Linked DNA regions of Homo sapiens. The protein of the gene in region 1 purifies or fractionates together with the protein of each later gene. This does not show direct contact. Each region holds a gene or a part of one and is shown in the gene's direction. Other genes may lie near its edges. The genes, in order: INSL3, RNF123, IREB2 and CHAF1B.

The links.
Region 2: the proteins of INSL3 (region 1) and RNF123 purify together in Homo sapiens (affinity purification with mass spectrometry; 3 studies listed by BioGRID and IntAct, with this or other methods). This does not show direct contact.
Region 3: the proteins of INSL3 (region 1) and IREB2 purify together in Homo sapiens (affinity purification with mass spectrometry; 3 studies listed by BioGRID and IntAct, with this or other methods). This does not show direct contact.
Region 4: the proteins of INSL3 (region 1) and CHAF1B purify together in Homo sapiens (affinity purification with mass spectrometry; 3 studies listed by BioGRID and IntAct, with this or other methods). This does not show direct contact.

Annotation. Positions count from the first base shown.
Region 1 is NC_000019.10:17,818,502-17,825,970, reverse strand, and holds the start of INSL3 (insulin-like 3 isoform 2 precursor), read left to right. Parts: upstream 1-4,451; 5' UTR 4,452-4,464; coding exon 4,465-4,654; intron 4,655-5,480; coding exon of another isoform or gene 5,481-5,575; intron 5,576-7,469. UniProt on the Homo sapiens protein: Seems to play a role in testicular function. May be a trophic hormone with a role in testicular descent in fetal life. Is a ligand for LGR8 receptor.
Region 2 is NC_000003.12:49,685,441-49,692,562, forward strand, and holds the start of RNF123 (E3 ubiquitin-protein ligase RNF123), read left to right. Parts: upstream 1-4,116; 5' UTR 4,117-4,166; intron 4,167-5,689; 5' UTR 5,690-5,725; coding exon 5,726-5,807; intron 5,808-5,984; coding exon 5,985-6,069; intron 6,070-7,122. Other genes in the region: MST1 (hepatocyte growth factor-like protein isoform 2 precursor), read right to left, coding at 31-66, 156-292, 420-522, 622-752, 873-1,041, 1,244-1,362, 1,511-1,627, 1,709-1,845 and 4 more. UniProt on the Homo sapiens protein: Catalytic subunit of the KPC complex that acts as E3 ubiquitin-protein ligase. Promotes the ubiquitination and proteasome-mediated degradation of CDKN1B which is the cyclin-dependent kinase inhibitor at the G0-G1 transition of the cell cycle.
Region 3 is NC_000015.10:78,433,241-78,441,216, forward strand, and holds the start of IREB2 (iron-responsive element-binding protein 2), read left to right. Parts: upstream 1-4,975; 5' UTR 4,976-5,097; coding exon 5,098-5,116; intron 5,117-5,180; exon of another isoform or gene 5,181-5,616; intron 5,617-6,554; coding exon 6,555-6,641; intron 6,642-7,976. UniProt on the Homo sapiens protein: RNA-binding protein that binds to iron-responsive elements (IRES), which are stem-loop structures found in the 5'-UTR of ferritin, and delta aminolevulinic acid synthase mRNAs, and in the 3'-UTR of transferrin receptor mRNA.
Region 4 is NC_000021.9:36,409,384-36,416,402, forward strand, and holds part of CHAF1B (chromatin assembly factor 1 subunit B), read left to right. Parts: coding exon 1-82; intron 83-2,079; coding exon 2,080-2,221; intron 2,222-3,500; coding exon 3,501-3,932; intron 3,933-5,911; coding exon 5,912-6,006; intron 6,007-6,891; coding exon 6,892-6,983; 3' UTR 6,984-7,019. UniProt on the Homo sapiens protein: Acts as a component of the histone chaperone complex chromatin assembly factor 1 (CAF-1), which assembles histone octamers onto DNA during replication and repair.

The DNA of each region.
Region 1 (7,469 bases):
CCTAGTTTTGAGTTTCCTGTCTTATTTCCAATGGGGACATTCATGTAGCTTTTTTTTTTTTTTTTTTTTTGAGACGGAGTCTCGCTCTGTCGCCCAGGCTGGAGTACAGTGGCGCAATCTAGGCTCACTGCAAGCTCCGCCTCCTGGGTTCACACCATTCTCTCGCCTCAGCCTCCCAAGTAGCTGGGACTACAGGCGCCCGCCACCACACCCGGCTAATTTTTTGTATTTTTAGTAGAGACGGGGTTTCACCTTGTTAGCCAGGATGGTTTCCATCTCCTGACCTCGTGATCTGCCCGTCTCGGCCTCCCAAAGTGCTGGGATTACAGGCATGAGCCACTGCGCCCGGCCCTCATGTAGCTTTAAATGTATGATCTGACTTCTGCTCCCCGATCTCTGTTTCTCTGGAGGAAGCCAAGGACAAGAGCAGTTGCTGTGGCTGGGACTCTGCCTTTTAGGGGAGCCCGTGTATCTCTTTGGGATCCTGAAAGGGGGCAGGAAAGGCTGGGGTCCCAGTCCACCCTAATGGTATCTGAGTGTCCTAGGGCTTCAGTTTTCCCACCTGTCCAATGGGACCCTTTCTGTCCTCACCCTACAAGGGGCACAAAGGGATGACACCAAACCTGGCAGGAACTTTTCACGCAATCAAGGGAAGGAAAGGCATTCCTGGCAGAGGGAACAGCATGCCAAGCGTGAGAAGGCTCAGAGTAAGGAGGTTAAGAGCCCAAGTATTGGAGCCTACAGTTTTGCCCCTTCCATGCAGTGTGACAGTGGGCAAGTTCCTTTCCCTCTCTGGGTCTCAGTTCTGTCCCCTGCAAAATGGTCAGAGCTTACCCCTTGGCTGTGCAGGGTCAACTTTCTGACTGGTGAGAGGGATTCTCATGCAGGTTAAGCTTCTGCTGCTCCTCCTCACCTGCAAAGCTTTTCTGCCACTTTTGCCTCCTTGGAAAACTCTTATCCATCTCTCAAAACTCCAGCTACCACATCCTTGCAGCCTTCCCTCATATACCCCCACTACTACTGTAGCCCTGTCCTTCCCTCCAGCCCCACTCTGGCCCTGGGGCTGGGGAAGTGTCTGTGTCCAGCTGTCTCCCCTGACCTCAGGGTTCCTTGGGGGCTGGGCTGAGGCCTCAGTACAGAGGGGGCTCTGGAAATGTTTGTTGACTGAATAAAGGAATTCAGTGGAAAAGATTTTGTGCTGGACTTGGGGCGATGGGGAGCCTCAGAGGGTGTGTGAGCTGGGAGGGATGCGGTTAGAGCTGTGGGCCAGAGACCTCTCAGGGAGCCACTGTGGGGGCCCCAGGGCAGGCTGGTGGAGGAGGACCACTGGGTGGGGCTTGGCTGGGGCCCTCAAGGACAGAGCCCCCTCACTCCCAGCCCCAGCTGCTGGCCTTGGCTGCAGCCTGGGGGAGCTGATTACAGGCTCTCTGTGGGTGGGGAAGGAACAGGATGCTCTCCCGGTGGTCAGAGGACAAGGCCAGGTTGGGGGAGCGAGGCTGTGGGGAGGGGACCAGCATCACTGGGGCCGGACCACCTCCCCACCGACCGGCCCCCGTCATGTGCACCTCATAACTGCTAGAAAGATGTGGAGAGTGGCCAGGCTCAGTGGCTCACGTCTGTAATCCCAGCACTTTAAGAGGCCAAGGCAGGAGGATCACTTGAGGTCAGGAGTATGAGATCAGCCTGGCCAACATGGCGAAACCGTCTCTATTAAAAATACAAAAATTAGCCTGGTGTTCTGGCACATGCCTGTAATCCCAGCTACTCAGGAGGCTGAGACAGAAGAATTGCTTGAAACTGGGATGTGGAGGTTGCAGTGAGCTGAGATCATGCCATTGCACTCCAGCCTGGGCGACAGAGCGACTCCGTTTCAAAAAAAAGAAAAATGCGGACAGAGACAGACATACAGAAGGAAACTGAGAGATGAAGGCCGAGAGAGACTCAGAGAGAGAGAGAGAGAGAGATCCCTGTCCCTGCTCTCTTAGCCCCAGAGGGCCCCCTAATTTGGTAGAAATAGGGAGGGAGCTGCTCTGGGGTCAAGCAAGACTCGAGTTCCAGCCCAGGTTCTCTCCTGCCTAGGGTCAAGCATCCTTCCCTCTCTCAACCTCAGATTCCCTCCTTGGAAAAACAAAGCTATAAGACCCCCTAGGCATGAAGCGGGGGCCAAGCATCCACTGAACAAATAAATCCTGCTCTATTCTGGGTCCACCAGCCCCTGCTCACCCAGAGGGGACAACCGTGTTGGGGAGACAGAGCTTCGGATGGGACACCCCCAGCCCTGCGTGTCAGGCGCCTTGAGAAGACCTGGGCTCTGCTCAGCCTCCTGTGACCTTGGGCAAGTTTGGGGTCCTTTCTCTGTGCCTCAGTTTTCTTTTTTTCTTTTCTTTTCTTTCTTTTTGTCTGGTGAGGGGACGGAGTCTCTGTCCCCAGGCTGGTGTGCAGCGGCACCATCTCGGCTCACTGCAATCTCCACCTCCTGGGTTCAAGTGATTCTCCTGCCTCAGCCTCCCGAGTAGCTGGGATTATAGGCATGCACCACCACATCTGGCTAATTTTTGTATTTTTAGTAGAGACAGAGTTTCACCATATTGGGCAGGCTGGTCTCGAACTCTTGACCTCAAGTGATCCACCTGCCCCATCTTCCCAAAGTGCTTGCATTACAGGCATGAGCCACTGCACCTGGCCTGTGTGCCTCAGTTTTCTCATTTGTACAGTAATAGAAACAACAAAATTCTGAACATTTCTGGTCTTGGAAGATGCCCGCTGTCTTCCCCCCTGCCCCCCAGAAAAGGCAGGATTATTACTTTTCAGTTGATCTATTTCATCTCTTTAAACTGGTTAAGACAATAGCGAAGACTTGGCCGTGTGTGGTGCCTCACACCTGTAATCCCAGCATTTTGGAAGGCCGAGTAGGGAGAACCACTTGAGTTCTAGATGAGCCTGGGCAACATAGCAAGACCCCTGCCTCTACAATTAAAAAATTAAAAATGGCCGGGCGCGTTGGTGCACGCCTGTAATCCCAGCACTTTGGGAGGCCGAGGCGGGTGGATCACTTGAGGTCAGGAGTTTGAGATCAGCCTGGCCAACATGGTGAAACCCCGTCTCTGCTAAAAAATACAAAAATTAGCCAGGCTTGGTGGTGGGCACCTGTAATCCCAGCTACTCAGGAGGCTGAGGCAGGAGAATCGCTTGAACCCAGGAAGCAAAGGTTGCAGTGAGTCGAGATCGCACCACTGTACTCCAGCCTGGGTGACAGAGTAAGACTCTGTCTAAAAAGATAAAAATAAAAATTAAAAAATTAAAAATTAGCTGGGCATTGTATTGCAGGCCTGTAGTCCCAGCTACTCAGGAGGCAGAGGCTGAAGGATCGCTTGAGCCCAGGGGAATGAGGTTACAGTGAGCTATGATCCTGCCATTACAGGCCAACCCAGAGAGATCCTATGTCAAAAATGAATAAATACCCTGGTGTGGTCGCTCTCGCCTGTGATCCCAGGACTTTGGGAGGCTGAGGCGGGAAGATGACTTGAGTCCAGGAGTTTGAGACCAGCCTGGGCAACATGGCAAAACCCCATCTCTACAAAAAAAATACAAAAAATTAGCCGGGTGTGGTGGCGTGGGCCTGTAGTCCCAGCTACTCAGGAGGCTGAGGTGGGAGAATTGCTTGAGTCAGGGATAGGGAGGTGGCAGTGAGCCCATATCGTGCCACTGCACTCCAGCCAGGGTAACAGAGCAAGAACTCATCTCAAAAATAAAAAATAAAAATAGGTGGCTGGGCGTGGTGGCTTACACCTGTAATCCCAGCTACTTGGGAGGCTGAGGTGGGAGAATCACTTGAACCCAGGAGGTGGAGGTTGCAGTGAGCCGAGATCGCATCACTGCACTCCAGCCTGGAAGACAGAGCAAGACTTTGTCTCAATAATAATAATAAAAATAATAATAGTCCAGGCACAGCTCATGCCTGTAATCCCAGCATTTTGGGAGGCCGAGGCAGATGGATCGCTTGAGGTCAGGAGTTGGAGACCAGCCTGGCCAACATGGCGAACCCCAGTCTCTACTAAAAATAAAAAATAAAAAAAAAAAAATTAGCCAGGCATAGTGGTGCGCACCTGTAATCCCAGCTACTCAGGAGGCTGAGGCAGGAGAATCGCTTGAACCCGGGTGTCAGAAGTTGCAGTGAGCCGAGATCAAGTCACTGCACTCCAACCTGGGTGACAGAGTGAGACTCCATCTCAAAAAAAAAGAAGAAAAAAATAAAAAAGAAAGACTCGTTGCCCAGTGCTCCCTCTGGGAGAAGTACATCCAAGGCCCTGGCCCTGGGAGAAAGGCTCTGGCACTAACCCCACCCTTGACCTTTTTCCTGGGCGGTCCTGAAGAATGTTCTGTCCCTTCTCCAAGGCCCCCAGCTGGGACGGCCCAGGCGCCTATAAAGGGGGTCCCCGCTTGGCCCCGGCGCCACCCACCACCATGGACCCCCGTCTGCCCGCCTGGGCGCTGGTGCTGCTGGGCCCTGCCCTGGTGTTCGCGTTGGGCCCCGCGCCCACCCCAGAGATGCGTGAGAAGTTGTGCGGCCACCACTTCGTACGCGCGCTAGTGCGCGTGTGCGGGGGCCCCCGCTGGTCCACCGAAGCCAGGAGGCCTGCGACCGGAGGCGACCGTGAGTGGGGACGGGCAGGGACAGCGCTCTGGGAAGCCGAGGTGGGGCAGGTGCACGTAGGCGCAGATGCACACGTGCAGGGAGGTGGGCAGGTTTGCATGCATGTGCCCAGGGCTCACCTGCCGGCTGCGTGCACAGATCGTGGGTCCGCACTGGAGTGTGTGTGAACGCGCGTGTGAAAGTCCCCAGAGCCGTTAGCCAGGCGTGGTGGCTCACGCCTGCAATCCCAGCACTTTGGGAGGCTGAGGCGGGTGGATCCCCAGAGGTCAGGAGTTCGAGACCAGCCTGGCCAAAATGGTGAAACCCCATCTCTACTAAAAATAATTTTTAAAAAAATTAGCCGGGGATAATGATGCACATCTGTAATCCCAGCTACTTGGGAGGCCAAGGCAGGAGAATCGCTTGAACCCGGAAGGCAGAGGTTGCAGTGGGCCGATATCATGCCATTGCACTCCAGCCTGGGCGACAGAGTGAAACTCCGTCTCAAAAAAAAAAAAAAAAGAAAGTCCTCAGAGCATGAGTCCCCCTGAGGGGCCAGAAACAGAGTGAGGCAGGAGAGGTAGGCTCTTGCAAGTACATGGTGAGATCCTGTCTTAAAATTTCAATATTTTGATCTTCATGAATTTTTGCCTTAATTTTGCTTTGTTTGTTTGTTTTTTGAGACAGGGTCTCACTCTGACGCCCAGGCTGGAGTGCAGTGGTGAGATCTCGGCTCACTGCAGGCTCAACCTCCTGGGCTCAAACCATCCTCCTGCCTCAGCCTCTGGAGTGGCTGGGATACAGGTGCTGCCACCACACCCAGCTAATTTTTTTTTCTTTTTCGTAGAGAGGGAGTCTCACTCTGTTTCCCAGGCTGGTCTCAAACTCCTGAGCTCAAGTAATCCTCCCACCTTGACCTTCCAAAGTGTTGGGATTAGCGATGTGAGTCACTGTGTCCAGCTTTAAAAGTATTTAAAAGTATTGCTTTTGAAAAGTATTGCTTTTCACAATTATGTTACTTTATTTTATTATTTTATTTTTATTTATTTATTTTGAGACATAGCCTCGCTCTGTCACCCAAACCAGAGTGCTGTGACGTGATCTCGTCTCACTGCAACCTCTGCCTCCCGGGTTCCAGCAATTTTCCTGCCTCAGCCTCCAGAGTAGCTGGGACTGCGGGCACGCACCACCACACCTGGCTAATTTTTGTATTTTGTTTGTTTGTTTGAGATGGAGTCTCGCTCTGTCACCCGGGCTGAAGTGCAGTGGCACGATCTCAGCTCACTGCAACCTCCGCCTCCTGAGTTCAAGCAATTCTCCTGCCTCAGCCTTCCAAGTAGCTGGGATTACAGGCCACTCCCCAGGTCACCCACTACCATGCACAGCTGATTTTTTTTTTTTTTTGTATTTTTAGTAGAGACAGGTGAACAGGTGAAACAACAGGTTTCACCATGTTGGCCAGTCTGGTCTTGTTTTGTTTTGTTTTGTTTTGTTTTGACATTGAGTCTCGCTCTGTCCCCCAGGCTGGAGTGCAGTGGTGTGATCTCGGCTCACTGCAAGCTCCGTCTCCCGGCTTCACGCCATTCTCCTGCCTCAGCCTCCTGAGTAGCTGGGACTGCAGGCGCCTGCCACCAAGCCCAGCTAAATTTTTTGTATTTTTAGTAGAGATGGGGTTTCACCATGTTAGCAAGGATGGTCTCAATCTCCTGATCTCGTGATCCACCTGCCTCGGCCTCCCAAAGGGCTGGGATTACAGGCATGAGCCACTGTGCCCGGGCCAGGCTGGTCTTGAACTCCTGACCTCAGGTGATCTGCCCGCCTCAGCCTCCCAAAGTGTTGGGATTACAAGCGTGAGCCGCTGTGCCTGGCCTTTTTACAAATATTTTAAATTTTATTTTAAAAGTATTGCATTAAAATACTTACCTTGCTGGATGTGGTGGCTCATGCCTGTAATCCCTGCTACTCAGGAGGCTAGGAGGGAAGATCACTTGAGGCCAGGAGTTTGAGACCAACCTGGGCAATATGAGACTCAGCCTGAGACAGAGACCCTTGTCTCAAAAAAGGGAAAAATATTAATATTATTATTATTATATATATATATTTTGAGACAGGGTCTCACTCTATCACCCAGGCTGGAGTGCAGTGGCGTGATCTCGGCTCATTGCAACCTCTGCCTCCCAGACTCAAGCAATCTGCCCACCTCAGCCTCCTGAGTAGCTGTGACTAGCTACTCTCAGGCTGGTGAGACCAGCCTGGCCAACGTGGCGAAACCTCGTCTCTACTAAAAATACAAAAATTAGCCGGGCGTTGTGGCGCACACCTGTAGTCTCAGCTACTCAGGAGGCTGAGGCAGGAGAATCACTTGAACCCGGGAGGTGGAGGTTGCAGTGAGCCAAGATCACGCCACTGCACTCCAGCTTGGCAACAGAGCGAGACTCCATCTCAAAAAAAAAAAGCTGATGCTGACATTTGGGGATGTATATGGTAGTGGGGCTGTCCTGTATATTGTAGGGTGTTAGATAACATCTCTGTCTTCTGCCCCCTAATGCCATGAATAGCCTCACACCCCATCCAAGTTGTGACATCTAAAACTGTCCCCAGACAAGTATCCCCTGGAAACAAAATCACCCTGGTTTGAGAACCACTGGTGTCAATTGTAAACTGCAGATTGGGTAGAGGGTAAACAACCCTCTAAATTTTCATAAGTCCTTTTTTTTTTCTTTTGAGACAGTCTTGCTCTGTCACTCAGGCTGGAGTGCAGTGGCACGATCTCGGGTCACTGCAGCCTTGCCTTCCCAGGCTCAAGCGATCCTCCCACCTCAGCCTCCCAAGTAGC
Region 2 (7,122 bases), on another chromosome or scaffold:
GCCTGACCCATAACTGGCCCAACTCCTAACCTGGGGGGTCCAGGATTGATGGCGGCTGGTCATCAGCTGAAAGACAAAGTTCACTGGGGTTAAGGGAGCCAGCCTTTGGGTGGGGGCTGAGGCAGGGTCATGGGGGAAGCGTCACTAGTGCTCACCGCAGCGTCGCAGGGCACAGTAGTCGAATGGGGTCCTTGGGTCCATCGTGTAGCACCAGGGCCCATGGCTATCCCCATCTGGGTTCCGGCAGAAGTTCTCCTCCAGTTGTGCATGCGGTTCGGAGGTAAACGTGAACCTAGGCGGAAGCGGGAGCAAAATCGTGGCAGGGTAGTCTCAACCATTTCCAGGCTCTGGTCCCAGACACCAAAGCATGCCGCCCCAGGGTTAGGGCCCTGGCGGGGCCGGGAGCACCAGGGACTCACTGCGGCTTGTGCGGCGTCTCAGCGGACCAGCGCTGGCACTGGACACCCTTGCGGGTCTTGCTGACCGTGCCGCGGTACTGCTCCCCTGCGCCGTGGTAGCAGTCTGTGGCGGGTGCGGGCAGCCATCAGGCCGAGACCTCGCCCCGGCCCTCCGGTTCCAGGCTTCCAGCCCGGCTCTGTAGCCCCCAAGCTTGGGCCTCACCCTGGGGCCGCACGTCGTCTGTACAACGCCGGATCTGGTAGCAAAAGGCCGCGCGCATGCCGGGCCGCAGTGTGAAGCACCAGGGCGCCTCTGAGCCGTCGGGGTTCCGGCAGAAGTTCTCCCGAAGGTCTCTAAGCAGGCGCTCCACTCAGCCCTAGCCCGCCAGCCTCCAGCCTTGAGCCCGTGACTACCTTCCTCCCGTCTCACCCGCAGCAGCACGTCCCAACGCCCGCCCCCCCCCCCCACCTCACTTGCACGCGTATTTTTCTGGCGTAAATCGGTGCTGATGCGGGATTTGCGCGTCCCAACGCTGGCAAGGTACGCCCGCAGTGGTGGTATTGGCTGTGCCCCGGTAGCCCTCACCCTTCCCGCGGAAGCAGCTGACAGTTGTGGCCTCTTGGCGGGGCTGTGCCTCGGACCCTTAGATGGACCGAGATAGGTCGGGCCCCGAGCGAGAGCTGAGATCCCTCTGGGGCTGGGACCAAACCCGCCTTTCCCAGGTGTACGGTACTCCACGGGGTATGCTCTCAGGTCACGCCCAGCCCCTCTTACCTCCCCGGCCAAGCCACGCCCCTCCCCAAGGTTCCCAGGTACCCTCCCAGGCCTGGTCCCCGCCGCCTACCGCAGCGGGGGAGGTCACAGAACTCTCGCTCGATCTGCGGATCCGTAGTGTAGCACCATGGCCGCTCGGAGCCGTCAGGATTCCGGCAATAGTTGTCGTCCAGACCTTGGTCGAGGAACCTGGGGGCGGTAATGGGGCGTGAACAAGACCCTGGGACTCTGGCTTATCTGGCCCCGCCCAATTGCCCTACACGGAGCCCTGCCCCTGGAGTCCTGGACCTTCCCTAGCCCGGCCCCCAGGACGCCGATACCGCCTACGCGTACTTGCCCGGCTCGAAGGGGTGCTGGTGCGGGTGCTGAAGATCCCAGCGCTGGCACTCGCGCCCTGACTCCGTGCGGTCTACCGCGCCGCGGTATTCCTCGCCATTGCACCAGACACACGCGGCTGGAGACAAAGAGCCAGTGGGTTCGTGGATGGACGTGGGCTTGTCCCTCCACTCTCCCAGCTTGACCCGGCGCCGCTTACCCTCCCGGCAGGATTTGATGCCGCAGCTCTGGAAGCGCACAGCAGGGTCTGTTGTGTAGCACCAAGGACCTCCGGGGTCGCCATCAGGGTTACGGCAGAAGTTCTCTTCCAGGCCATTCCGGAGAGTGGGCGTGTACCTGAGGGCCCAGAGCATCACTATAGTGTGTGCTGGGGGAAGGCCCCAGGCCGGGACGGAGGGAAGGTGTTTGTCTCACTTGTGATCATTTGGGAACTTGTGGCTCCAAGCCTGGCAGGGCAGGCCACCCACGGTCGTGGCCATGGTGCCCCGGTACCCAACCCCATTGTTCATGATGCAGGTCCGTACGTAGTCTGGGAGCAAGAGACAGAAGATCAACTTGGGCTGAGGTCCCCTGTCTCCCACCCTGCCCCTCTCCACCCCCACTTGCCTTTCTTCTGGAAGAGGTCACAGCGCCCAGAACGCCGCAGCCTCGTGTGGGGCGAGTGTTGAGTCCATGGCAGCAGTTGGCAACCATGGCTGCTCACGTTGTAGTGGAAGGCCCTGGAGAGAAGAAGGCACAGGGTAACGCCACAGCCCAGGCTTCCCTGCCCCCAGTCTTATCTAGGCCCAGTGGCCACTCACCGGCAGTCCATTAAGGGCCCACAGCGACCAGCACACTCTTCAGCATCTGCCACATCCTCCTGCCAAGGCCCGGGCACCACCGCATGTAGCAGGTGCTGTAGCTCTGTGCCCCGGAGCACTTGGAAGTCATTCAATGGCGAGCGCTGCCCTGCAGAGTAGGCATGAGTGGGTGCAGGTCAGGTGGGCATACATGTCAGTAATGTGTATTGGCATGTCCACACTTTGTTCATTCAGGGGATCAAAGCTACAAGGCTTCTGGGATGGACCCTGTATGCACTTTCAAGGGCCAGTCTAGCCCCCTGCACAGATACTTGTGAAAAAAATTTCCCCTGGGAAGCAGGCCCAGACTTGGTAGTTATCACCGGTGCCTCTGTTTAGTGGCCCAGGCACCGGGCTCAGATCTAACACATACGCTCTGTGAGAGCAGTGGGTGATGAAGCTTGCCCCACCTCATCTCTCAAATGAGAATGCTAAGGCTCAGAGCCATCACATTACCCAGCCAGGGGCCCTGGCTAGGCATTCAGACTCCAAATCTGGGCTCTCACCTGCACAAAGGCATATGCTAGGTTAGAGGGGTAGATCAGGCTCAGGAGGGGTCACTGCCTGCTGTGTGCGTGCATCTGTGTGGTCCTGACACTGCTTCAGTGCTAGAGCAGACGTGCTAATAGAGGCCTAAGTGGGCAATGTCTATGTGTTCCTAGGGCTTCCCAGCTGTGCTCAAGAGGGCAAGGTCACTGCCCCATGCCCACTGAGCCTCTGGCTCCCCGACTTTTTTCTCATCCTAGAATAGGAGAATGGGGCCAACCCCCTCCTGAAGGCAGATGGGGATCAGGGTTGGGGGCACTTACCAGGGACCCCTAAGCATTGAGTCAGAAGCAGCAGGAGTGGGAGCCACCCCATCCTTCTGGCTGGAGGCTGCACTGTGACCCACCACAGCCCCATCCGGGAAGTTGTGAAACCTGTCCCTACGGGATTGGGTGGCTCTGGCTCCACACGTCAGCTCAGGGCCTGCTGGACCCTGACCTGAGACCTGGTGACAGGAGCCATGAGGGGCCAGGCCTCAGGTCCCATAGGTCAGTTGCAAGGGCCTAGTACAGCTTAGTGGACAGGTGTTAGGAAGGTTTGGTGGGGACACTTGAGGTGCCCTGGGGTTGGGGTGAAACCCCTCTGCAGCCTAGTCAGCCCAAGGGCATTGTGAAAGTGAGAGCTGCCAGAGGTCTGGGCTCCAGCCCCTGGGTGACATTAAACTTTTCTGAATTTCGGTTTTTCCCTGTAAATTGGGGAAAATTACTTGCCCCAGCTTCAACACTGCCTCCCCTCCACCCTTTTGCTGCTGCCTTATCAGGCCCCAGCTGTAGGCAGGTCAGCCCACACCCGGCGGCAGAGCCCAGAGAGGCTCGCTCATCTCAGCCGCCAGAAGTGTCATCCCAGGGAAGGTGAGCGAGGCTGTCCACTAGGACTAAATAGGGGTGGAGGTAACAGGTAGCAGGGACTCTGGCAGGAACGGCCTTTCAGACGTTTTAAGGACCGTCTGAGCGGGGCCTCTAAGTATGGGTAGGAGACAGGCGGCCTAGGGATTCCGGTTAGCATGTCGCGTTCTGCCGCAGCAGGGCTGGGAGCATCCCCAGAGCAGGCGGAGGTCGGAGGTGGTGAGGCCTTTCGGCGAAGCTGAGGCCTGGAACAACCCGGTGGGAAGCCATGGAGGGGGTCCCCTAGCGGAGGCTGGGCGCGGGCCAGTGCGCGTGCGCGGCTGGAGGCTCAGCGCGCAAGCGTGCGCGTGATTTGGCCCTGAACGGACGCCGTAGCCAAGAGGTTGGGCGGATGTTGTGAGCCGGGTCGCTGCGGCCGAGGCTCCGGGTGAGTGAGGGGCGGCAGGGCTCTGAGCCTGGCGGGTTCCGGCTATTCCCTTCGCGGTCCGGGCTAGTCCAGTGCGAGGGCACCTGCAGCGCAGGGATCTGGGTGCGAAACTCCGAGCGGAAGCTGGTCTGGCAGGTCCTGTGGAGCTTGGGGCCAGGCGGGGGCGACTTGGGGGAGCCATGCGCCGCCCTCGCCGTCCTTGGGCTCCCAGACGGAGTAGGTTCAGTTCTGAGTCCGGATACCCCGGCGGGGTTGGACGGGATAGCCGTGACAGGGAGTCCCCGGGCGGGGACAAGGTCCGCCTCTCACCTGGGTCCTCAGCAACTGACTCCCGGAGCCCACTCCGGGTGTCTGGAAGGTCTGCTCATCAAATGAATGACTGAGTTTAATCAGATCTTCAACTACTCTGGTAGTGAAGGGGCACCGATCATGGACGCCCACCGAGGGCCCGAGGTCGGGAAAATCACCTTCCCGAGGAGCAGGCGTGGTGCAGACCCACAAGGGTTTGTGGCGGGAGTAGAGGGTCTGTTTGGGGTGAGATAAGAGACTGAACTGCAGAGTAGGGAGTGCTGGCTAAGGCAGTGCTGCAGAGCGAAACTCTAGACCTGCGCTGTCTAATAGAACTTTATATGATGGTGGGAACGTTCTACCTTTGTGCTGTCCAACAGAGTAACCATTAGCCACATGTGGTCATTGAACTCTTGAAATGTGGCTAAGGCAACTGAGAAATCGAATTGTTAATTTTTAAAACTTTAAATTTAAGTAACCTCATGTGGATGACGGCTGCTGTGTTGGACAGCACCGCTACACATCAGTGAGGCCAGCACCAGGGACTCAGTGCAGGTTCTGGAGCAGCTGCAGCAGCAACATGATGTGAGGGATAGATGCACTAGGAGGACCAATGGAGTTTGCCATGAGGGCTGGGCAAGGGTGGTGCTTGGATGAGGTGGGAGGCCACATGTGTGAGTGGGAATGGTGAAACTATCAGGACCATGGATAAAAGAAGGGAGGAACCCAGGGCTGAGGAAAGAGGCTCCAGCCTTGTGGGGAGTAAGTGGGACTTATGGCTAGAGATGACCAGACCAGTGGTGGTCTGCACTTGGGGGAATGTGTAGGATTGTCGCTTCTGGTTGTGAGCTGGACTCAGTATGGCTTACAACTGAGATGGATACAGGGGCTCTGCCCCTAGGACACCTCACTTTGGACATTTTGGTCTGATTTCCACAGAGCTGAGACATTTTGTTATGGTTCGGCAAAAATATATCTAGTACCTGCTCTCTGCCCAGCCCTGTGCTGGGCACAGGGACACTGGAGAACAAGAAGTGGTCCCTGTTACATGGGCCTAGACCCTGGCTACCCTCCCTGTGTAGGAAGCTGGGAGCCCCTGCATTCCCCTGCCCTATGTGTTAGTGTGCATGCCCCTGGCCTCACCTGCTCCCAAGCCTTCCTGCCATGGCAGGACTGAGGTCAGGTGTGGGGGCCCCTGGCTGGCCCTGAGTAGACAGGCTCTGTGTCTGGCTCAGCCCCCAGGACCACTGGCTGCCCATGAGAGATGAAGGATGGCATCCAAGGGGGCCGGCATGTCTTTCTCCCGCAAGAGCTATAGGCTGACCTCAGATGCTGAGAAATCCAGGGTCACAGGTAAGAGCTGGCAGGGAAGGAAGGAGGCTCCTCTTGTTGGGAGGAGAAGGAAGGGACAAAGGCCTCAGGCCTTGCTGCACCTGTGGCTGGCCTAGGACCAGAAGTCTCTGGGGCCAGCAGGGGCCAGGAGCTGCACTGATCATGTGGCCCTTTTCTCCCTTCTGACTTGTGGCTCAGGCATTGTGCAGGAGAAGCTGCTGAATGACTACCTGAACCGCATCTTTTCCTCTTCTGAACATGCACCCCCAGCAGCCACCAGCAGGTATGGCTGGGTGGGTGGCCCCTCCTCACTCTGCTGGGCCAGACCAGAATAAGGAGGCTGCAGTTGTAGGGAAAGGGAGCCTGGGCTCTGGACAGATAGGCTTAGGCTCTGTTCTCACTGTGCTCCTGGCTGCGAGATCTCTGGCCAGAGAGTCTGCCTTCCGTACTCTGCTTCTTCCTGTCTCCAGGCAGTGCTAGTTCCTTCTGAGAGTCAGGGAGCAGAGGTCAGGGAGCGGGTGCACATTCATGCCCAGCTAGCACCTGGCACCTACTCCATACCCAGCATCTGCCCCTGCATGTACCTGCCCTCACCTTGGCCCCAGCCTGGCCCCTTGTAGCTTCTGACTGACCTTGTAAAGAACAAACTCCTCCAGGGCCTTTTCTTTACAAGTTTAATACTTTTAAGTGTAGTCAGTATAAAAGTTACAAGTACATTTTAGCAGAAACTTAGAGGGCCAGGCACAGTGGTTCACACCTGTAATCCCAGCACTTTGGGAGGCCAAGGTGGGTAGATTGCTTGAGTCCAGGAGTTCAAGACCAGCCTGAGCAACATGGCAAGACCCCATCTCTACAATAAAATACAGAAATTACCTGGGCATGGTGGTGTGCACCTGTAGTCCCAGCTGTTAGGGAGGCTGATGTGGGAGGATCACTTGAGCCTAGGAGGTTGAGGCTGCAGTGAGTTGGCCTCTGCATGCCACTGCACTGTAGCCTGGGTGACAGAGCAAGACCCTGTCTCTAAAAAAAGAAGGAAAAGCACCTGCTATCTTGTTATTTTAACATGACTATTCAAATGTGATTCTTTTCTGTTTCTTTCTTTGTGTTACATTTTTAATTTTTAATTTTTGTGGGTATGTAGTAGGTATATATATTTATAGGGTACATGAGATACTTTGATACAGGCATGCAATGCGTAATAATCACATCATGGTAAATGGGGTATCCATCCCCTCAAGCATTTATCTTTTGTCTTATAAACAATCTAGTTATACTCTTTTAGTTATTTTTAAATGTACAATTATTATTTACTATAGTCACTCTGTTCTGCTACCAG
Region 3 (7,976 bases), on another chromosome or scaffold:
ATTGTATTGATACAATTGATTGTGTTGTATCAATTACATTTCCTGAATTTGATCATTTTTAGTAGATACATGATAAAGTACTCAGGACTGAAGGGTCATAATCTCTAAAATTTACTCTGAAATGGTACCAAAAAAATGAGAATAAGAAATAGCCAGGTGCAGTGGCACACATCTGTAGCCCCAGCTACTTGGGAGGCTGAGGTAGGAGGATTGATTGAATCCAGGAGTTGGAGGCTACAGTGCACTATGATCTTGCTGTGAATACCTACTGCACTCCAGACCAGGCAACACAGTGAGACTGTGTCTCAAAAAAAGAAAAAGAATAAGAAATAATGAGGATCTTATCTCTGAAATAGCAGAGAGGGAGAGAGAGACAAGGCAAATGTGGCAAAATGTTAACAGTAAATAAATAAACCTAATTAAGGTATATATGAAGTTTTATTATAATTATCTTGCAATTCTTCTGTATTCTTGAATTTTGTTTTTCGAAATAAAATGTTTAATTTAAAAAGTAGAGATGGGCCAGGTGCAGTGGCTCATACCTGTAATCCCAGCACTTTGGGAGGCCAAGGTGGGCAGACAGCTTGAGTACAGAAGTCGAGACCAGCCTAAGGAACATAGGAAAACCCTGTCTCTACAAAAAATACCAAAATTAGCTGGGCATGGTGGCGTGCGCCTGTGGTCCCAGGAACTCAGGGGCTGAGGTGGGAGAATTACTTGAGCCCAGGAGATGGAGGTTGCAGTGAGTCGAGATCACCCCACTGCACTCCAACCTGGGCAACACAGTGAGACTCTCTCTCAAAAAAAAAAAAGGAGAGGTGAACCAGCCTGGACATTGCCCGAGACACTGATCTAAAAGGGTGCTAAAATCTCACTGGAAATGTAACTTGAAAAAAAATGTATAGTGAAAACATACCATAAGCTTCCATTTGCATAGCATTCAAAATAGGGTGTAGGGGATGAGGAAATGGCAGCCTAGGAGGAAAACAGCTGCGGTTATAAAACGGCAACAGGAAGGATCCTTGGAAATGTTCCATATCTTGACTGTAGTGATGGCCACACAAAGCCACACACGTGAACTAAATACACACGTGCATGTGCGCGCACACACACACACACACACACACACCCTACAAAGGAGTACATGTAGAACTGCCTAAATCTGAGTAAGGTGGAATGATTGTATGAATGTCAATTTGCTCGTTTTTATATTGTACTATGCTACATGGAGAAAGACTAGGTGAAGAGTATACGGGATCTTTATTACTTAGTACAACTACATGTAAATCTACAATTGTCACAAAATAAGAATGTTTAACAATAGGTAAATTTTATGATATTTAAACTAAATCTCAATAAAACTGTTAAAGCTGACTGAGATGGCATATGCCTGTAGTCCCAGCTACTTGGGAGGCTGAGGTGGGAGAATCCCTTGAACTCAGGAGTTTGAGATCGGTCCAGGCCAAATAAACAGACCTCTGTCTTAAAATAAATAAAATTTTCAAAAAGTAAATAAAACTGTTAAAAAAAAAAAAAAAGTAATGAGTCCAGCCACACGGGAGCATATCATGATTGTTCTAAGTTAGTGCTTCTCAGTGGAAGCGGGACACTGAGAAAATGGGTGTTTTTGTTTGTCACCATCATGGGGCACTTTTGGGATTCAATGAATGTTAGATTGCCTGCATTCCACACTATAGAATTACACAACAAAGAATCAAACAAGGGCCAGGCCCGGTGGCTCACGCCTGTAATCCCAGCACTTTGGGAAGCTGAGATGGGCGGATCACGAGGTCAGGAGTTCAAGACCAGCCTGGCCAACATGGTAAAACCCTGTCTCTACTAAAAATATAAAACTTAGCTGGGCATGATGGCACGTGCCTGTATTCCCAGCTACTCAGGAGGCTGAGGCAGGAGAATTGCTTGAACCGGGACCCGAGGGGCGGAGGTTGCAGTGAGCCAAGATCATGTCACTGCACTCCAGCCTGGGCTACAGAGCAAGACTCCGTCTCAAAAAAAAAAAGAATCAAACAAGACCCATACTGTCAGATATTCAAGTACATTAAACATACACACAAACATAAAAACAGTAACAACAAATTTGTTTATAATTATCTGAGCCTAGAGTTTAACCCCATATACAAGTAAAAACAAAAGTAATTTGTGTATGGTTTTAATATATACGGAATTTTCTAGGAATACAACTATTGCATAAAAAAAGCAAAGGTTTTTTTTTTTTGTTTTGAACTTTATCAAGAGTTATTCACCATTTCAGAAAATCACAATAGTGACAACACTTCCAATATTTAAGTCACTAACATATTTTCATTAGTCTTTAGAGGCCATTCATGATATATATGTACATTTTATACATATGTGCATTTACCATATATGCATTCATAATATATATTTATGCATGATATGTATGTATATATTGAATCCTTATTTTGCAATGTCAGACATAAAAAGTGTTGACCATATTCAGCTGAATATTATCTTTTTTTTTTTGAGACGAAGTCTTGCATTGTTGCCCAGGCTGGAGTTCAGTGGTGAAATCTCGGCTCACTGCAAGCTCCGCCTCCTGGGTTCACGCCATTCTCCTGCCTCAGCCTCCCGAGTAGCTGGGGCTACAGGCGCCTGCCACCACGCCCGGGTAATTTTTTGTACTTTTAGTAGAGACGGGGTTTCACCGTGTTAGCCAGGATGATCTCCCATCTCCTGACCTCGTGATCCGCCCGCCTCAGCCTCCCGAAGTGCTGGGATTACAGGCGTGAGCCACCGCCCCGGCCTTATCTTTTTTTGAGACAGGGTTTCATTCTGTCTCCCAGGTTGGAGTGCAGTGGCACAATCATAGCTCACTGTAATCTTGAATTTCTGGGCTCAAGTGATCCTCCTGCCTCTGTCTCACGGTAGCTGGTACTACAGGCATGCACCACTATGTCTGGCTAACTCTTTAAGTTTTTGTAGAGACAGGGTCTCACCATGTTGCCCAGGCTAGTCTCAAACTCCTAGCATCAAGCGATCCTGCAGCTTTGGCTTCCCAAAGTGCTGGGATTACAAGCTTGAGCTACCAACTGTGCCTGGCCCAGTCGAATATTATATGTCCTGTAAAACCAAACTCATTCGTTATAAATAGATACAAGCATCTGACTACTCAATTTTGTCATCTAATATAGACATGCCTGTGCAGCTACGTATTATAATACATATTATTTTCTAATAAATTACTTTCCTATTTTTCTCCTTTATATTACAGTTAGGTCATTAAGTAGATTATTTATCGTGTATGTAGATTATATTACCTATGAATTTCATGCTGGGATTGTAAAGGAGATGTTACAAAATATAGCAAGGTGAATAAAGGAAATATATTGGAGTTTGGGTTGACAGGGCTTGGATCAATGATTAAAGGGAGTGGATGAAGGAGTCAGGTATAATGTGTTGATTTCTGGCTTGGGCAACCAGGTGGATGGTGGCGCCATTCGCTAATACAGGCAATACAAAAGGAATAGTAGGTTTAAGGAGGGAAATGACGAGTTCAGTTTTGGAGATTTTTAGTTTGAGGTGCCTTGGGATGTGGAGGCATCCCATGGGTACTAGGATATACACCTCCGGGTTTAGGAGATAGGCTCAGGTCACAGGCAGACTGGGAAGCATCAACATATTAACTAATAACTGAAGTCAAAGGAAGTGTGAGATGGGCCAGGGAAAATGGACAGAGGGAGGAGGTACAAGGCCAGAGCCCTGGGACACATTTAATGTCCAATATATTTTTTTTTGAGACAGGGTCTTGCTGTGTTGCTCAGGCTGGAGTGCAGTGGTGCAATCATGGCTCACCACAGCCTCAATCTCCTGGGCCCAAGTGATCCTCCCACCTCAGCCTCCTGAGTAGCTGAGACTACAGGTGCATGCCACCACACTCAGCTAATTTTTAAATTTTTTTTGTAGAGATAGGGTCTCACTACGTTGCTGTGTTTGGTCTTGAACTTTTCAGCTCAAGCCATCCTCCCACTTTGGCCTCCTAAAGTGCTGGAATTACAGGCATGAGCTACTGTGCCCATCAAGTGCCCAGTACATTTAAAAGCTGGGCGGAGGAAGAGGTCTGCAGAGGAGCCTGAGATCAAGCACCCTTAGGAGAAGAAACAAAAGTAGAGTCTGAAGTCACAGAAGCTGATGGAAGAGTATTTTTCAACAATGGGAGAGAACCAGTCAAGATTGAGATATGTGAGATTAGAAAGTGGAGTTATAGCTGGCCTTGGCTAAAGGCATTTCTGGGAGTGGAAGCCAGACTGGAAGAGGATAAGAAGTGGGTGGGGGAGAGCCGAGTATGAGCGACTCTTTCTGGTAAGTTGCTGCGACAGGAGATAATGCTGGGTAGGTGGAGAACACAGGGACCGGAGGAGCTGAGGCGGAAGGATGGAGAGGCTTAAGCATGTGTTAACTGCCACTGGGAAGAAGTCGGCAATCACGGAAGCTACCGGAGGGTAAGAAAAAATTCATTCATTCAACAGTTGAGCGCCTCCCACGCGCCCGATCAGTATGGCCGCCCCCACTTGAAAACACGCGTGTGGGCCGCCCACGTCTGACAAGTTAATGCAAGGCTTTATAGTTAGGGGAAAGCGGTTCTCCTTGAGCTCTTTCTCCTAGCAGTTCCGATTCCGACCCTGACTCCAACAGACACCTTGCGGGAACGCAAACACCGCTCGAATTCATGACCCCAATAGAAAACTTAAGGCCGCAACTAAGTAACGGATCGCTGCGAAGGCCAAACTAGCCACGCCAACGCCCCCACTGGAGCCTCCCCAGCGCTCCGCCCCCGCTCGCGAGAACAGCGGCGACGGCGCGAGAAATCGCTTTCTGGTTAGCTCCGCCCCTTCCCTTTCTTTGTTTTCCTGTCCGACGATCTCGCGGGAGTTAGGCGACAAATCCCGCGAGCGCAGACCCGGGGCTGGCTCTGCTGCTCTCGCGATATTTGCGCGAGCCTGCTTCCTTCTTTCCTCCCTTGCCAGTCCGCCTGTCTTCCTCCCCGTCTTCCCTGCCCGGCCTCCCCCTTCTTCCCCCGCTGGCCCCCTCCCCGGAGGGATAATATGGTCTCCGGCGATGGACGCCCCAAAAGCAGGTCAGTTTCGGGCCTCCGAGCTGGGTCTGGCAGTTGGAAACGCGCGCTGCCTAGGCGCCGAATTCCTTGCTTTTCTCGCCTGGAGTCGCTCGGCAGGCGCCCAGGCCCTCGGGGCTCGGGTTGTGCTCCCCTCGGGGCCTGCCTGCTGGGCCGCCCTTTGAGCCTAGGCCGCGGAAGCTGGGGCTCCCGATCCCCACCCTCCTGCGCGACACCCGCAGGGCGGGCCACCCCACCGCTGGCCTTGACCCGCACCCCTCTCTCTCCGGTGGCCGCTGCCTGCTGCCAGCGGCTTCCTGGCCCCCGTCAGCAACACCAGGGGCAGGGAGAGGCCCACCGTCTTCTCCTGCCCGCCCCCCATTGGCGAGCGATGAAGGCGGGGGCCTGCGTCTCCGTGTTCGGGTCTCACGCAGCTAGATGTTGATTCCACGGTCCAGCCTAAGGCCCCTCAGTCTCTCTGTGCCTCTGGAAGCCGAATGAGGGGCAGTCAAGGTTGAACATTGGTCAGTCAGTTCTCCGACCATTTATTGCACCGCTGTCTCCTCCCCCGTCCACCTCCCTCTACAAAAAAAAAAAAAGAGAAAAAAATACTATTCATTCTGAAAATGGGCTGTGCTTATGTTTTCTCCTTTTGGATGAAAGCCTTAACAATGTTGAGGGTCCTGGCCACCCACCGCTATGAGTCTGCACAAAAGATCTGAAGGTTCTTTTCAACCTCAGGGCTGCCTCCCCGCCACTGCCCCCTAGAATGTTGGGAGCTGAGGCACGTTTAAATGAGACCTCTGGATCTTTGACTTAGTAGTTCAGCTTCAGTTCGTGCAAAACCAGAAGACTTGTCTCTTTCGGGTAGAATATGCTAATTTCCTAGAGATTCTGTTACTTTTATTTTCAGTACTAAGCCCTGGTAAGGACTTAACTGAGAAGTTTTTTTGTTTTGGTTTATTGAATGCTCTGTAAAAATCCGTCTTTTAGTTTTTTTTTTTAATCAGTCCCTCTAATGTTAATTGTGGAATTCACAAATTCCTGTCTCTGCAGTTTTCAAGACATGTCTTTCCAAAACGTCCCCGTGGATTATTTAAATCATTCTTATTGTCCCTTTCCAGGTATTCTTATCACATTTCAGGAGTGAATTATCTTACTAGTTTTTACTTGACAAATTATGGTTTAGAACTATGCTTTCCAGTGTGGTGGATACTAGCCCTGTGTGACTTTAAATTAATCAAAATTAAATAAATTAAAAATTCAGTTCCTCAGGCACGATAGCCACATTTCAGGTGCTCAATAGCCACACGTTGCTAATGGCTACTTTACTGGACAGCTCAAACATAGAATATTTTTACCATTGCAGAAAATTCTATTGGATAAAGCTAGTTTCCAGGTATTTTCAGCTGAATAAAATATTTTGTTGCTGCATTTAATGAAAATACAATTTTTTTTTCAGGATACGCCTTTGAGTACCTTATTGAAACATTAAATGACAGTTCACATAAGAAGTTCTTCGATGTATCTAAACTTGGCACCAAGTATGGTAATGTTGCTTTACATTTTCTTGGGTTTGTTTAGTCTCTAATAATGAAAATGCATTTGTCAAGCTGAGCTGAAGAAATTTTAAATGTATTTCCACCGTATTGTAACAGGTACACCTACACATACCTATACCATTTTAAAAACTCCTCCTGGGACAACTTCTGTTCAGGGAAGATGTAGGCCCACACCTTAACTTCTCATTTAAAAATCTAAGTTAATTAAGCACTAGTTTTTCCCCTCAAAGAAACCAATAATGCAGTTTTCAAACTTTTTTTTTTCTTGTTTTTGTGAAGACAGGGGTCTTGCTATGTTACCCAGGCTAGTTTTGAACCCCTGGGCCCAAATAATCCTCCCACCTCTGCCTCCCCAAGTTTTGGGATTACACATGTAAGCTACTGCGCCTGGCCTAATGTGATTTTTAGAAGAACCTGACTGACTGATGATAATTCTACACCAATTAAATGTATATTTTATTTTCTCTTTTCTTTTCTTTTTTTTTTTGAGACAGAGTCTTGCTCTGTTGCCCAGGCTAGAGCACAGTGTTGTGATCATAGCTCATACAGCCTTGAACTCCTGGGCTAAAGCAGTCCTGCCTCTGCCTCCCAAGTAACAAGGCCTACAGGTGTATGCCAACACATTTATATAAAAACATATTTTTATATTTTTTGTAGAGTTGGGGTCTTGCTGTGTTGCCCAGACTAGTCTCAGACTCCTGACCTTAAGTGATGCATCTGCCTCAGCCTCACAAAGTATTGGGATTGCAGGCCTGAGCCACTATGCCTGGCCTGTTTTACTTTGTCAAATGAACAGTGCCCACATCTATTCTTTTTGCCATCTGTTGAATAGGAATCACCAACAGGACCCATTGATTTGAATTTTTCTGAAGTATTGGGCATGGTTTGCCCCAACCTACACACCTGCAGTTTTGGCAGACATTCTCATTGACCTTATCAGGGTCAAACCTTTCTCTGTGGTCTCAGAAGAGTGAATGTGGGCGACCTATAGGGCATTGAATGGAAGTTTTGACTTTACTAACAGTTGAGTAACTTTCTCAATTGGGCCAATAGAGAGACCTCTTTAGAAGACTCATTATTCTTTGTGAACTTTTCCATGACAATGACATGAAAAGATAAATTGAATGCCACATCTGTTGCAGTCAGTTTTGGAAGGAGCTTTAATCTTGTTTTTTCTTGCATTATTTAATTAAGACGATTGTTCTTGTGATTTTTCTGTAGATTTTGAGGAATTTAAATATTCTTGACTGCTATGTGCAATATTTTTTGTGTATTGTGAAATACAGCTATTTTGGAGTATCTTAAAGAATCCCCATTTTAGA
Region 4 (7,019 bases), on another chromosome or scaffold:
CATCTTCCATGTCCTGGAAAAGCCACTCTTGCTGTTCGCTGCTGTCCGGTCTACTTTGAACTGAGGCCAGTGGTGGAAACAGGTATCCTCAGAGCCTCAGGGGTGTGTTATGTTTTCTCTCCGAAACAGGTCACCAGAGTGGGGTGGAGATTTGGATTCTGTCTTATGGGGAAAGGTGGGTATCTGGGTTTGGTTCAGTTCAGTTATTTTAAAAATATTTTATTTTTACATTTAAATCTATTTATTTATTTATTTTGAGACCAGGTTATCAGCCTGGTTAATTTTTGTATTTTTGGTAGCGACAGCGTTTCACCATGTTGCCAAGGCTGGTCTTGAACTCCTGGACTCAAGTGATCCACCTGCCTCGGCCTCCCAAAATGCTGGGATTACAGGTGTGAGCCCCTGTGCCCGGCCTGGTTTAGTTATTTTTAAAAGCTGGAGCAAAGACTGGGGTTATCAAAATACATGTCAGTTTTTTTTTTTTTTTCTTTCTTCAGGATATATTTTCTTGCTTAAGGCACTTTAAAAGGAATGGACGTACTCCTTTTGTTTGTCTATGTCTCTCATTATCAATTTTCTTTTTCTTTTTTTTTTTTTTGAGATGGGGTCTTGCTCTGTCGCCCAGGCTGGAGTGCAGTGGTGCAATCTTGGCTCACTGCAAACCCTGCCTCCCAGGTTCAAGGGATTCTCCCTCCTATCCTCCAGAGTAGCTGGGATTACAGGCGCATGCCACCACACCCAGCTAATTTTTGTATTTTTAGTAGAGATGGGATTTTGCCATGTTGGCCAGGCTGGTCTCGAACTCCTGACCTCAGGTGATCCACCCACCTTGGCCTCCCAAAGTACTGGGATTATAGGCGTGAGCCATCATGCCCAGCCATTTTCTTTGTTTTCTTGTGCTTGGGGTTCATTGAACTTCGTAGATCTATCCGTTTATAGTTTTTATTACATTTGGGAAGTTTCAGCCATTTTTCCTTCAAATGTTATTTCTGTTATTCCCTTCTCTTATTCAAATACTCCCATTACACATGTATTATATTAGGTCCTTTGAAATTAGTTCCTGGCCTTTGATACTACTTACTTTTTTTGTTTTTTTCTTCTTCCAGTGTTTGATTTTGGAAGTCTCTATAGCTGTGTTTTGAGTTTGCTAACCCTTTCTTCTGCATGCTCTGCCCTTGGTCCCATCCAGTGTGTTTTTCTTTGTTGTGGTTCTCATCTCTAGAGATTCACTTTGGGTTTTCCTTATATATTCTGTGCCTCTCCATGCTCCATTTTTCCTCTTGCTGCTTTCTTTTTTTTTTTTTTCTTGCTCTGTTGCCCAGGCTGGGGTGCAGTGGTATAATCTCGGCTCGTTGCAGCCTTCGTCTCCCAGGTTCAAGTGAATCTCCCACCTCAGCCTCCCAAGTAGCCAGGATTACAGGTGTGCGCCACCACACCCAGCTACTTTTTTTATTTTTAGTAGAGGCAGGGTTTTGCCATGTTGGCCAGTCTGGTTTCGAACTCCTGACCTCAGGTGATCTGCCCGCCTCAGTTTCCTCTTGCTTCTTAAGCATATAGAGTGCAGTTATAATAGCTCTTTTAATGTCCTTGTATACAGGTTGGTTTTGATTTTTTTCTCCTCATTGTGGGTCATATCTTCCTGTTTTTGTTTGCCTGGTACTTTTTGATTAGATACTAGACACTGACTTTTACTTTAGTGGATGCTGGATGTATTTTTATTCTTATAAATATTCTTTTTTTTTTTTTTTGTGACAGAGTCTTCCTCTGCCACTAAGGCTGGAGTACAGTGGTGCAATCTGAGCTCACTGCAACCTCCGCCTCCTGGGTTCAAGCGATTCTCCTGTCTCAGCCTCCTGAGTAGTTGGTACTACAGGCACACACCCCCACGCCTGGCTAATTTTTGTATTTTTGATAGAGACGGGGTTTTGCCATGTTGCTTAGGCAGGTCTCAAACTCCTGAGCTCAAGTGATCCACCCGGCTCGGCCTCCCAAAGTGCTGGGATTCTAGGCGTGAGCCATTGCACCTGGTCAGAAGCCTTGTTTCTGTGGTTTTACTTTGTCTCTGTCCCCAACCCCCAGGTGTGGAGCTGATGAGTCTGCCCTACCGCCTGGTGTTTGCTGTGGCCTCGGAGGATTCCGTGCTTCTGTATGACACCCAGCAGTCCTTCCCTTTTGGTTACGTGTCTAATATACATTACCACACCCTCAGTGACATTTCATGGTGAGTGGCTGCTAATGAGGGAGAGTGAGTGAAGGAGACCGTGGCTGTATCCTGGAAGACACCCCGGGGTTAGGGAGCATTTCATTACTAAAGATGGCTTTGGGGGACATATTCACCAATTTTGTTTCTTATTTATTTTTTTGAGACCAAGTATCACTCTGTCACCCGGGCTGGAGTGCAGTGGTGTGATCTCGTTTCACTGCAACCTCCACCTCCCAGGTTCAAGTGATTTTCATGCCTCAGCTTCCCAAGTAGCTGGGATTACAGGTGCGCACCACTACGCCTGGCTAATTCTTGTGGTTTTAGTAGAGATGGGGTTTCGCCCTGTTGGCCAGGCTGGTATCAAACTCCTGGGCTCAACGATCCTCCTGCCCCAGCCTCCCAAAGTGCTGGGATTACAGGCGTGAGCCACCACGCCCGGCCCCAATTTTGTTTTTTAAAGGAATCAACATTAAAAGGAAAGCCGTTTCTAGTTTGCCACAATACTTGCTTCTTATTTTCACACTGGTGGGTTTTGATGGCATTCAGATTGCCTTGTGGGGTTAACTGGACTTTGATAAACTGAGGGGAGGCCTTGTAGACTCCCTGGCCATTTGGGGACTTCTGAGGCCCTCTGGGAGGAAGCCCTTCCCTGCATGCCCCTGCTGCCCAGGACAGGGAAGTGCCCCAAGCTGGGCCTGTGTAGAGGATGTCACTCAGCACTGTCCTTCTGCCACCTTTTGGTCCCCAATTCAGCCCCCGTGGCCTGCTTGGCCCAGTGTGAGGTTTTTTTTTTGAAACAGAGTCTCACTGTCATCCAGGCTGGAGTGCAGTGGAACGATCGTGGCTCACTACAACCTCCGCCTCCTGGGTTCAAGCAATTCTCCTGCCTCAGCCTCCCGAATAGCTGGGATTACAGGCGCCCACCACCATGGCTGGCTAATTTTTTTGTATTTGTAGTAGAGACAGGGTTTCACCATGTTGGCCAGGCTGGTCTTGAACTCCTGACCTCAAATGATACACCTGCCTTGGCCTCCCAAAGTGCTGGGATTACAGGCGTGAGCCACCGCACCCGGCCTATTCAAGTGAAAATTGCTAGTAGCACAGATAGGTTGCAGCGACTTAGCAAATCGCGATGAAACTGCATGAGTGAGTCGCTATCACACACTCTTTTCCAGTTGTATCTTTTCCCTGGTTTTTGCCTTCAAACAAGCTTGTGATTTTGCTCGAACTTCCCTCTTCTAAGTAGATGTGAGAGTGTTGGTAAGGTCTGTAACTTTTCCCTGTTTTGGGGACGAAGGTCCAGCGATGGTGCCTTCCTGGCCATTTCTTCCACGGACGGTTACTGCTCATTTGTGACATTTGAGAAAGATGAACTTGGAATTCCTTTGAAAGAGAAGCCAGTTTTGAACATGAGAACTCCTGATACAGCAAAGAAAACCAAGAGTCAGACACATCGAGGGTCTTCGCCAGGACCCAGACCGGTAGAGGGAACCCCTGCCAGCAGAACCCAAGACCCCAGCAGCCCCGGCACGACTCCCCCTCAGGCCAGACAGGCCCCAGCCCCAACAGTCATCAGGGACCCTCCCTCCATCACTCCTGCTGTCAAAAGCCCCTTGCCGGGGCCTTCGGAGGAGAAGACCCTGCAGCCCAGTAGTCAAAACACAAAAGCCCACCCATCCCGGAGGGTCACTCTGAACACACTGCAAGCCTGGAGCAAGACAACACCCCGGTAAGAACTTGTTGGAACAAGATGTCATTGCAAAATGAAACACAAAATGCAGACAGAACGCTCCCACCCTGCTGCAGGTGAAATTTCAGGCGGTGAATGCTTCATGCCAGTAGGTTGCCAGAGAGATTCTTAACTTCAAATCCGAGAGTGTCATTTCTTGCATATAGGCCTCTGTTTGTTCCTCCAGTTTCTGCCTGTCAGATAAAGCCCAGGCTCCTATGCACACACACAGACTGTGATTTGGCTGCAGCCTGTCATCCAGGACTGTGGCCACTCTCTCTCCTGAGTCTGTGGCCTTCATCTCCGGCCTAGTCCTGAATGTCATCTTCCCAGAGCACTCTCTGCCCTTTGAGGCCTCTGTCCTTCCCTTCTCTGGGGAAGCCCTGGACACCTCTTCCTCTTGGTGATGCCAGGAGTCTCCTGAAAGACCCATTTCAATGTACCCTCTCTGTTTGCAGTCTTTGTGGCCCTTCAGCCTTTCCCTTGTCACCACACATCAGATTCCATAGCAGGTGCTTTGATGCTCCAGTTCCCCTGCTGGTTGTGAGCCCCCAAGGACAGGAAGCAGGTCCCATTTTTTATTTATGCTGTTCTGCCCAGGATGTAGGCAATTCCAGGAGTGTCTTCCTGAGACTGCGTTTGATGTCTCCAGCAGCCTGGTCGGTGAGAAACGGAGGTCCTGATCTGATAACAAATAATCCCCAGGAGGTGCAGAGTCGTTTCTTCCCTGCTTACATCAGTGTGGCTGGCACGCACGCCTGTGTCTGCCACTTCTACTGGATACAGAGCCACTTAGCACATCCTTCTGCCGTCAGGCAGCACAGCCTCCTGTTTCCATTCTTCCCCTGCAGCTGATGTCCAGTTACCCCTCTGATCCTGTATAGTTCCTTCTCCACCAAGCCCTCTGCCTCCCAACCTTCCCATAAACTGAGTCACGAGGAGAGCTGGGAAGGGGGATGCAGAGGGGAGTGGTGGGGATGGTGAGCTGGACAGAAGCGCCCTGTGCCTCTCAGCCTCTCCTGCGCCAATAGGTCTTCTTTGGCAAGTTCATAATATGTGTATGGGTTGCTGGCTTTAACGCCCTCTTAAAATCTCTCATTTCTTTCTGCAGATTAGCAATGTATTTTACAATTTTTCTGTTTGTTTTTATGTGACGGAAGGTATTCCTTGAACTATTTTTGGTATTAAATTATTTTTCCCCTCTTGATTTCTTCTGAATTATTTACCAAGCTTCTTGAAGATGTAATCTTTTGCAAACAAGAATAGTTGTTGAAAATTAAGACTCTGGGTTTTTATTTATTTATTTATTCATTTGAGACAGGGTCTTGCTCTGTTGCCCGGGCTGGAGTGCGATGGCATGCTCTCTGCTCACTGCAACCTCCGCCTTCTGGGTTCAAGTGATTCTCCTACCTCAGCCTCTCAGGTAGCTGGGATTACAGGCATGCGCCACCATGCCTGGCTGACTTTTTGCATTTTTAGTAGAGACGAGGTTTTGCCATGTTGGTCAAGCTGGTCGAAAACTCCTGACCTCAAGTGATCTGCCCGCCTCAGCCCGCCAAAGTGCTGGGATTACAGGTGCGAACCATCTTGCCCGGCCCAACGCTCTGGATTTTAAAAAAGTATTACCTGTGTTTCGACGCTTTCTATATATAGAAACCATATCTGACTGCCTTTTACAGCAGCCAGCAGAGTGTTCACAAGACCGTCGGTAATGAACAGAACACAGGTTTTGAAACTTTTCGATGACTGGTTATGGTTTAAGTTGACTGTTATAAATGTGATGGTTTAACTTAATACATGAATGTAATCCTCAGTTATTAAACAAGTGGGCACATCTTACTATTTAATGCCTTGAACCAGAAGTTCAGCTGAAAATTTAAGTATTTCCTTTGGTAGTTTTGAAGGTTGGTATCATACATAAACAATTCCTGTGATACTAATGAGCCATCACCCCTCTACTTTTTTTTTTTTAAATCAAGGAGAATAAACTTAACACCCTTAAAGACGGACACTCCACCAAGTTCTGTACCAACCAGTGTGATTTCCACCCCTTCTACAGAAGAAATTCAGTCAGGTAAGTAATATTGTTACTGGTTTAATATAATGAAAGGTAGAGTATCTTTTCTTTTGTTCTTTTGGAAATTAATGCCGCCTAATTTTAAGTCAGTTCTGAGACAGCAGGGATGCATCTTATTGGAACCATTGTTTAAACCCGCCGGCTGCCTGTTTACGCCTCAGCAGGGGGCACCTGGCCAGTGAGAGCATCCTGGTGAGCCAGGGAGTGGGTTCAGCAGGAGATTGTCTAGCTCAGGTTTCTCCACCTGATGACTGCTGACCTTGTGGGCCAGGCAATTCTTTGTTGTGGAGGACTGTCCTGTGTATTATGCGATGTTTAACAGCATCCCCGGCTGCTACTTCTTGCCCATGACATTCTTTTTTTTTTTTTCTTTTTTTTGAGATGCAGTCTTGCTCTGTCGCCCAGGCTGGAATGCAGTGGCACGATTTCGGCTCACTGCAGCCTCCACCTCCCACGTTCAAGCAATTCTCCTGCCTCGGCCTCCCGAGTAGCCGGGACTACAGGCGTGCGCCATCACACCCGGGTAATTTTTGTATTTTTAGTAGAGTCGGGGGTTTCACCACGTTGGCCAGGCTGGTCTTGAACTCCTGGCCTCAAATGATCCACCCGCCTCAGCCTCCCAAAGTGCTGCGATTACAGGCGTGAGCCACCGCGCCCAGCTTGCCCATGACATTCAAAAATGCCACTAGACATTGCCCACTGTCCCTTGAGAGGCAAAATCGCCCCTGGTTGAGAGCCACTCTATAGAACTTCCATTATATCAGTATAGGATCTTGCCAGGCAGCTCAGTTCCGTGTCTTGGCTCTGTATTCTGTAAATGTCAGCCCTTGACTTCCAGAATTCTTCATTTACTTGCCAACCTTATGTTTGTTAATGTTGCAGAGACGCCTGGAGACGCTCAGGGCAGTCCCCCAGAGCTAAAGCGGCCCAGACTCGATGAAAACAAAGGAGGCACGGAAAGTCTGGACCCTTGATGGGACCTCGGCTTCTGCTCGAAGCCTACCAGGCTC